Homo sapiens: one gene and its partner. The protein of the gene in region 2 purifies or fractionates together with the protein of the main gene of each other region. This does not show direct contact. Each region holds a gene or a part of one and is shown on either strand. Other genes may lie near its edges. The genes, in order: KCMF1 and KHDRBS3.

Region 1 (3,820 bases), on a different chromosome or scaffold from region 2:
AAATAATTCTTGACCTGTTAAAAGAAATAACTGGGTGTGGTGGCTAACACCTATAATCCCAAGCACTTTGGCAAGGCGAGGCAGGGGGATGGCTTGAGGCCAGGAGTTCAAGACCAGCCTGGGCAACATAGAGAGATCCTGTCTACAAAAAAATTTAAAAATTAGCTGGGCATTGTGGCCTGTGCCTGTAGCCTTAGCTACTTGGAAGGTTGAGGTGGGAGGAATGCTTGAGCCCAGGAGCTCGAAGCTGCAGTGACCATGATCAAACTACTGCACTCCAGCTTGGGAACAGAACAAGACCCTGTCTGGAAAAAATAAAAATAATAATAATAATAATAATAATAATAATAATAATAAAGGAAAGAAAGAAGCTTGAACAGGGCTGGGTGCCATAGCTCACACCTGTAATTCCAACACTTTGGGAGGCTAAGACAAGAGGGCTGCTTGAGGCCAGGAGTTCAAGACCAGCCAAGGCAACATAGAGAGATCTCATTTGTATTTGTTTAAAAAAAAAAAAGTTAAAATATGCCAGGCGCAGTGGCTCACGCCTGTAATCTCAGCACTTTGGGAGACTGAGGTGGGCGGATCACCTGAGGTCAGGAGTTCAAGACCACCCTGACCAACCTGGTGAAACCCCATCTCTACTAAACATACAAAAATTAGCCGGGCGTGGTGGTGGGCGCCTGTAATCTCAGCTACTTGGGAGGCTGAAGCAGAAGAATGGCTTGAACTCAGGAGACGGAGGTTGCAGTGAGCCGAGATCATGCCACTGCACTCCAGCCTAGGCGACAGAGTGAGACTCTGTCTTTAAAAAATATTTTTAAAAAAGTTAAAATTTAAAATTCTGTAGGTGGGTTTCATAGTTTTATTCACATGTGATCTGCTTGTTTATGCTGAAAACCCAAATACAGCTAAGTTATTAGAAGCAGTAAGCAAAGCTGTTAGATAGAGACCTCCTAAATAAAGTACTGATTGTATTTCTTCACTGCAAAACAGACAGAAAAACATATTATTAAAAATATGTCATTTATTACAAAAAAATTAGTGAGGCATGGTGGTGTGTGCCTGTAATCTCAGCTACTCGGGTGGCTGAGGGAAGAGAATCACTTGAACCCAGGAGGCAGAGGTTGCAGTAAGCTGAGGTTGCGCCACTGCACTCCAGCCTGGGTGACAGAGCGGGACTCCTATCTCAAAAAACCAAAAAAATGTCATTTGTGATTCCATCGAGATGTGCCAAATTCAAAGAGAAGGAAAGTAGAACAGTGGTTGCCAGAAGCTTGAGGAAAGGGAGAACGGGGAGTTACGGTTTAGTGGGTAGAGAGTTTTCAAGTTTGGGATAATGGAAGAATTCTGGAGATGGACAGTGGTGATGGTTCCAAGAATGTGAATATACTTAATGCTACTGAACTGTACACCTAAAAGGGGTTAAAATAAATTTTATGCTATGTATATTTTACTGCAATAAAAAAATAAGCCATTTGCAACAGCATTTTAAAAAAGTGCCTATGAATAAATCTAACCAAAGATAGGCAGCCCTTTATGAAGCAAATTAGTAAAAATGTATTCAAAGACACTAAAGGACTTTAAAAAATATAAATACCAACTTCATGGACTGGAAGGTTCATAATAAAATGTCAACAGATTTGTGGATTCAATACAATTAATAACCAAAATTTAAAAAGAATTTTTTTGTGGGGCATGGTAAGCTGACTCAAATGTTGATGCAAGTTACAAAAAGGGCCAAGGAGAGTCAAGATGCTCCCAAGAAAAATGAGATAGAGGGACTTGTTTTATATATCAAGAGCTAAACTAATAAATAATAAGTAACACCATAACAAATAATAAACCTATAATAACTACAGTAAGATGGAATGGCACCAGGGTAGAGACAAACTGGCCCATGGAATAGAACGGAAAGACCAGAAACAGATGTTGAAATCTGTTTTACAACAGCAAGGTCACTAAAGAGCACTGAGAAAAAAAGGGAATGGACAATAAATGGTGCTGAACAGGTGATTATCTGCATGTGGGGAAAACAGAATTGGATCTCTCCCCATATCCTATACACACAAAAAATCAATTCCACATGGTTTAAAGACGGATTCAAAAGAACAATGAAAAATATCTCTAGAAGACAATATAGAATATTTTTATGAGTCTAAAGTAGAAAACAATTTCTTAAATCTTTCTCTTTCTCACACACACACGCGCACACACACACACACACACACACTCTCTCTCTCTCTCTCTCTCTCTCTCTCTCACTCTCCAAATCAAAAAGTAAGAGATAAGTCCAACTACGTTAAGACTTTTTCTTCATCTTTTGTTTTTGTTTTATTCTTTTGAGATAGAGTCTCACTCTGTCGCCGGGGCTGGAGTGCAATGGTGAGATCTTGGCTCACTGCAACCTCCGCCTCCTGGGTTCAAGCAATTCTCCTGCCTCAGCCTCCCAAGGAGTTGGGATCATAGGCGCCTGGCACCATGCCCAGCTAATTTTTGTATTTTTAGTAGAGACGGGGTTTCACCACGTTGGCCAGGCTGGTCTCGAACTCCGGGTGATCTGCCCGCCTGGGCCTCCCAAAGTGCTGGAATTACAACAGGCGTGAGCCACCACGCTCGGCCTTTTTCTTCGTCTTTTCACAGCCTACATTGATTGAAAATATAAGGTTCAGAAACTGGCGATATGTACAACATACATGACAGACAAAAGTTTGGTATTCAGAATGCATTATGAACTCTTACATATCAGTAAGTAAATGATGAATGCTTAGTAGAAAAATGGAGAAACCTGTCAAAGGGCACTCAAAGAACAACAAACATAAATGGCCAGTAAACATATGAAAAGATGCTCAATCTCATTAGTCATCAAAGAAGTGCATGATTAACATCCGTGAGCTAGCATTTTACATTTACCAAACCGGTAAGAAACTACAAGTTTCATGATATCAAGTGTTAGTGAAGATAAAGGGCAGCAGAAGTGCTTATACCCTGCTGGTAGGAGTGTAAATCAGCACAACCACTTTGAAAAATTTGTTCATATTTTTAGTCAAGTTAAACACATATACCTCCTATGATACCGTAATTTCACTCTTAAATAAATTCCCGGGGAGGGAATCTTTTGTCTGTGTGCACCTAGAGAATGTGGAAGAATGTTGACGGCAGTTTTTGTAACTGAATTTTAAAAAGGCTACTCAGGGGCTGGGCGCGGTGGCTCACGCCTGTAATCCCAGCACTTTGGGAGACCGAGGCGGGCGGATCACAAGGTCAGTAGATCGACACCATCCTGGCTAACACGGTGAAACCCCGTCTCTACTAAAAATACAAAAAAAAATTAGCCAGGCGTGGTGGCGGGCGCCTGTAGTCCCAGCTACTCAGGAAGCTGAGGCAGGAGAATGGCGTGAACCCAGGAGGCGGAGCTTGCAGTGAGCTGAGATCGCGCCACTGCACTCCAGCCTGGGCGAGAAAGTGCGAGACTCCGTCTCAAAAAAAAAAAAAAAAAGGCTATTCAGATTCAAAGGCTCAACAGTTCAATATGCACAGAATGAATTGGAAAAAGAATGAATCACAGCAACGGTAAGAACATCTGCCTCAGATGAGTGAAAGGAAATTTCAAAGAATACATACAGTATTGGCCGGGCGCGGTGGCTCACGCCTGTAATCCCAGCACTTTGGGAGGCCGAGGCGGGCGGCTCATGAGGTCAGGAGATCGAGACCATCCTGGCTAACACAGTGAAACCCCGTCTCTACTAAAAATACAAAAAATTAGCCAGGCGTGATGGCGGCCGCCTGTAGTTCCAGCTTCTGGGGAGACTGAGGCAGG
Region 2 (3,820 bases):
TGTTTGCCTCTAATGCAACTGTGTTTTCAGCAGTTATTCACATTGGAGTTGGTATTTCAGCACTAAATTGTAGAATGGGCCAGCATGGCAAACCTTAGCGTGCCATGTAATAGATATGTTTTATGGTATCTCTAAACTCTAACAAGGCCTTACATTTGCATAGTATTTTAAAGTTTCCAAGGCACTAGTTTTGTCCTCACACTTGCATTCCGGTAAGGCAGATGTTCATGTCTTCTCTTTTCAGGAAGGCAGCTGAGGATCCCAGCTATCTAAGCTTTTGGGCAACTGAGATTTAATTTGAAATCTCAGGTCTTCTGTCTCTGAAGAGGTTGTTCTTTCTTATTTTGGCTTCCTAAAATGTTGGAATGAAATACTTCTCACTTGCTAACTTCAGACCCTGCAGAAATCAATATAATTAGTATGATTGTTTCCAACTGACTTAAATGTGTAGGAAATAGTATATATCCTTTAGGAAGTTTATCCTGATTTTTACAGAAAGTTTCTGTCTGCACTTGCCTTCTTTGAAGAAGCAAACATTCACGGTAGATTTATCTTCCAGGATTTTGATGCTGAGGCCAAGAGGCAGTTTTGAATTAAAGCCCTCCTGTGACTAGTGTATTAGTTTAATAATCAATGCATTATGATAATGAAGCAGTTTATAGATGAGGTGTAGTCGTTCTTTAAAAATTCAGTGTTCGTAAAGATTGATCAACTTCCTAACTGAATTACTCTTTTTCTTTCTTGAGCTAGGATGACAATAAGAGATATACTCCTGTCTGGTATACATTGGCTTTTATATTTTTCCAGACTTGTGTTTCATCGTGGGCACTGATTGCTGATTTTATTTTCATTTTACCAGAATAACTGGTTCTCCTCCTCCACCTCCTAAATGAATTTGTTTCCCGAATATTTATTTATTTATTTTTTTGAGACGAAGTTGCCCAGGCTCTGTTGCCCAGGCTAGAGTGCAGTGACACAATCTAGGCTCACCGTAACCTCTGCCTTCTGGGTTTGCGCGATTCTCCCGCCTCAGCCTCCCGAGTAGCTGGGACTGCAGGTGTGCGCCACCATGCCTGGTTAATTTTTGTATTTTTAGTAGAGACGGGGTTTCACTGTGTTGGCCAGGCTGGTCTCGAACTCCTGACCTCGTGATCTGCCTGCCTCAGCCTCCCAAAGTGCTGGGATTACAGGTGTGAGCCACCGTGCCTGGCCTCTGAATTTGTTTCTCTAACAAAATTAGTGGTTAATGTTTATTTGATGTTAAAAGTCAGTCAAAGAAAATAGGCTTTGGGATCCCACTCCGGACCCCGCCTTGGTGCCTGTAGGGTGAATTGACATTGCAATTCTTGCCAAGGAGAGGTTAATTGCAGATGAAAGTGGTGTTGCATGTTTTATATTTGCTAGTAGGGGATGTGCTGACTCTTACTAAAAAACATCTTTAGAAATGTCTTATGCATTATAATTTAATCCAAGTCTCTGATATTGGTTTGGATGGTTTTCAATACAAGCCAAGTAACCATTAAATAAGATTACATAACACTGTATTTTTAATTATCTGATATAATGTATGGATTGGTGGCTGGCTCACTGCCAAGTTACATTTAGTTGTCGTTGATTACAAGAGAAAGTGGAGCTGAGGATTCAAGATTAAGGTGGTCCAGATTTGTGTCTAGGTTGATAAAAGTTTTTTGTTTGTATATCAAAATGGTTTTTATATCAGTTTCTCAAATATTACAATTCTTAGCATTACTTAGAATAAATATGGAGGATAAAAATATATTAAGGAAGGATTATTATTTTATGTACATCTCTTTGTAATCCACAAAACCCAGGGGCTTAAAACTTGATTTTTGGGGACCCCTTTTGGAAAACATTTCGGATTTGCTTGAATGTCACAGACTTGTAAAGTAGAGAGTAAGAATGAGAACTGCAGAACTGTATTTAGGTATGGTGCCTTCATGCTATAGTTTGTGATTTTCTGTTTCATCCAAAGGAGGATGTGATTATTTAGTTTTTAGTTTTTTATTGTTTTTCTTTGTGTTATCAGTTTTTTTTTTTTTTTAAGAAAATGCGATCACTCACAGTGTTAGATATGCCATTTCTGAGTTTTATACAGTGTATTATGATTAAAAGTGACCCAGTGATTGTGAGTTACAGGGTTTTGGTATTGGACATTAGTAACAGGCTTATAGAGAACCTGCCATGCTGGTTCTCTGTGTTGGGTCCCAGGGGTAGGGAGGAAAAACAGTCTGCACTGGTGAGAAGCTCCTGCTCTCCTCTGTGTGCGTTTGAGAATGAATTTTCGGTTTGTAGATGCCCTCTTTCCTAAGGAACATCTTAGTCCTTCAACTATGCTGAAATATTTAATGATTGGATGGCTTAGATTTACTGTTAATAAATCAGCTTGTGGACATTTTTGAGGCACTTGTTGGTACTGGGTCATGTTTGTAATCTCGATACTGGTAACAGCTCAGAGATGGAGAGGTTATTAGCCTAGTTTTTCAGTTGTAGAAACCAAGATTCTGACAGCTAAAGTGACTTGCCCATGGTGACATGCTTATAATAAAATGTCAGAGTGAAGGGTCAAGCTTTGTTCTTTTACAGGTCCATTGTTCTTTTTACCATGTCCTACTGACTCTCAGTAACACTGAGAGTCTAAAGGGCTAAGTTACTGGCCAACCTGTGATGGTATAATTAGTGAATGATAGAAGGAGAATCAAAACCCTGGCTTTTTTATGTGCAGTTTGTTTTTCCTCTAGCCTGTGCTGAATTGAAAGATAAATTATATAGCATCCATTTTCATACTTCATTCTTCACATTTCTGCCCTAAGATAAGTCCTCTGACCTTTTTCAAAATGGGTTGGATTGCCTGTTTTCTGGTGTCACATAACACCTGGTGCTCTTACGGTGTGATCCTCATCACACTGCTTTGTTTGGATCTTTGTCTTTCTTGGTAAAGAGTGAGTTCCTCGGAAGACAGGGCCTGGTCTTTCCTCTGTATCTTCAGCACCTAGCATACGTCTGAGCACAGGGCCCTTGGGAACTCCTGTCTTCATTTCAGTGTTACGTGTTAATTATCATTAAGGGTAGCAGAATCAGAAAGTATATTTGGAATTTAGCAGTCAGTAAAGAGCTTTGCTTCTTACAGCTTTAGAGGACCTGAATTGGAGGTGGGGATGAAGTCAACAGTTCTGCCCATATCAATGAAAGAAGGTTCTGAGTGAAATGCAGGGTTGAACAAGCAGAAAAGCATCCCAGTGCTCTTTAAATGTGGTTGCACAGTAGGGATCCTTCTCTAGGAGATAATGAGAAGATGTTGTCAGATCTGCTTTGAATCAGATGTTTATTTACTTTTATTCTTTCTTAAGGAATTTATGAAATCACTGCACTCTCATCAATTTGCTCTCCTTCTCTAAACTCCTAATGATATTTCTCATGACAGATTAAAAACAGAATTTTGGAAGCCCTAGTCACATGCCAAATAAGGTTTCTTACCTGAGAGAGTTATCCGCAGTTTCAGATGCCAAAGGGAAACTCCGAAAGCCAGAGGAGCGATTGAAACCGCAAATTGAGTGCCAACAGCAACTTTGATATCAAAAGCCCCATTTGCCTGTTGTCACCAGTCCCGCTGAGTGAAGATAGAATGACTTATATCTTCTACCAAAACAATAGAAGGAGAGTGTTCCTTGGCGTTGGGGATGATGATTATAAAAGCCACCAATTTGAGGCTCTTCCGTGCCAGCTGCTTTCTGTGCATTCTCTCCCATCCCCGCAAGATCTTGCAAGGTAGGAGGTTTTATTCCCTGCGTGCCTCCTTTAT

The links.
Region 1: the proteins of KHDRBS3 (region 2) and KCMF1 purify together in Homo sapiens (co-immunoprecipitation; one large-scale study listed by IntAct). This does not show direct contact.

Annotation. Positions count from the first base shown.
Region 1 is NC_000002.12:85,022,997-85,026,816, reverse strand, and holds part of KCMF1 (E3 ubiquitin-protein ligase KCMF1), read right to left. Parts: intron 1-3,820. UniProt on the Homo sapiens protein: E3 ubiquitin-protein ligase which accepts ubiquitin from an E2 ubiquitin-conjugating enzyme and then transfers it to targeted substrates, promoting their degradation by the proteasome.
Region 2 is NC_000008.11:135,460,191-135,464,010, forward strand, and holds part of KHDRBS3 (KH domain-containing, RNA-binding, signal transduction-associated protein 3), read left to right. Parts: intron 1-3,442; exon of another isoform or gene 3,443-3,698; coding exon of another isoform or gene 3,699-3,786; intron 3,787-3,820. UniProt on the Homo sapiens protein: RNA-binding protein that plays a role in the regulation of alternative splicing and influences mRNA splice site selection and exon inclusion. Binds preferentially to the 5'-[AU]UAAA-3' motif in vitro.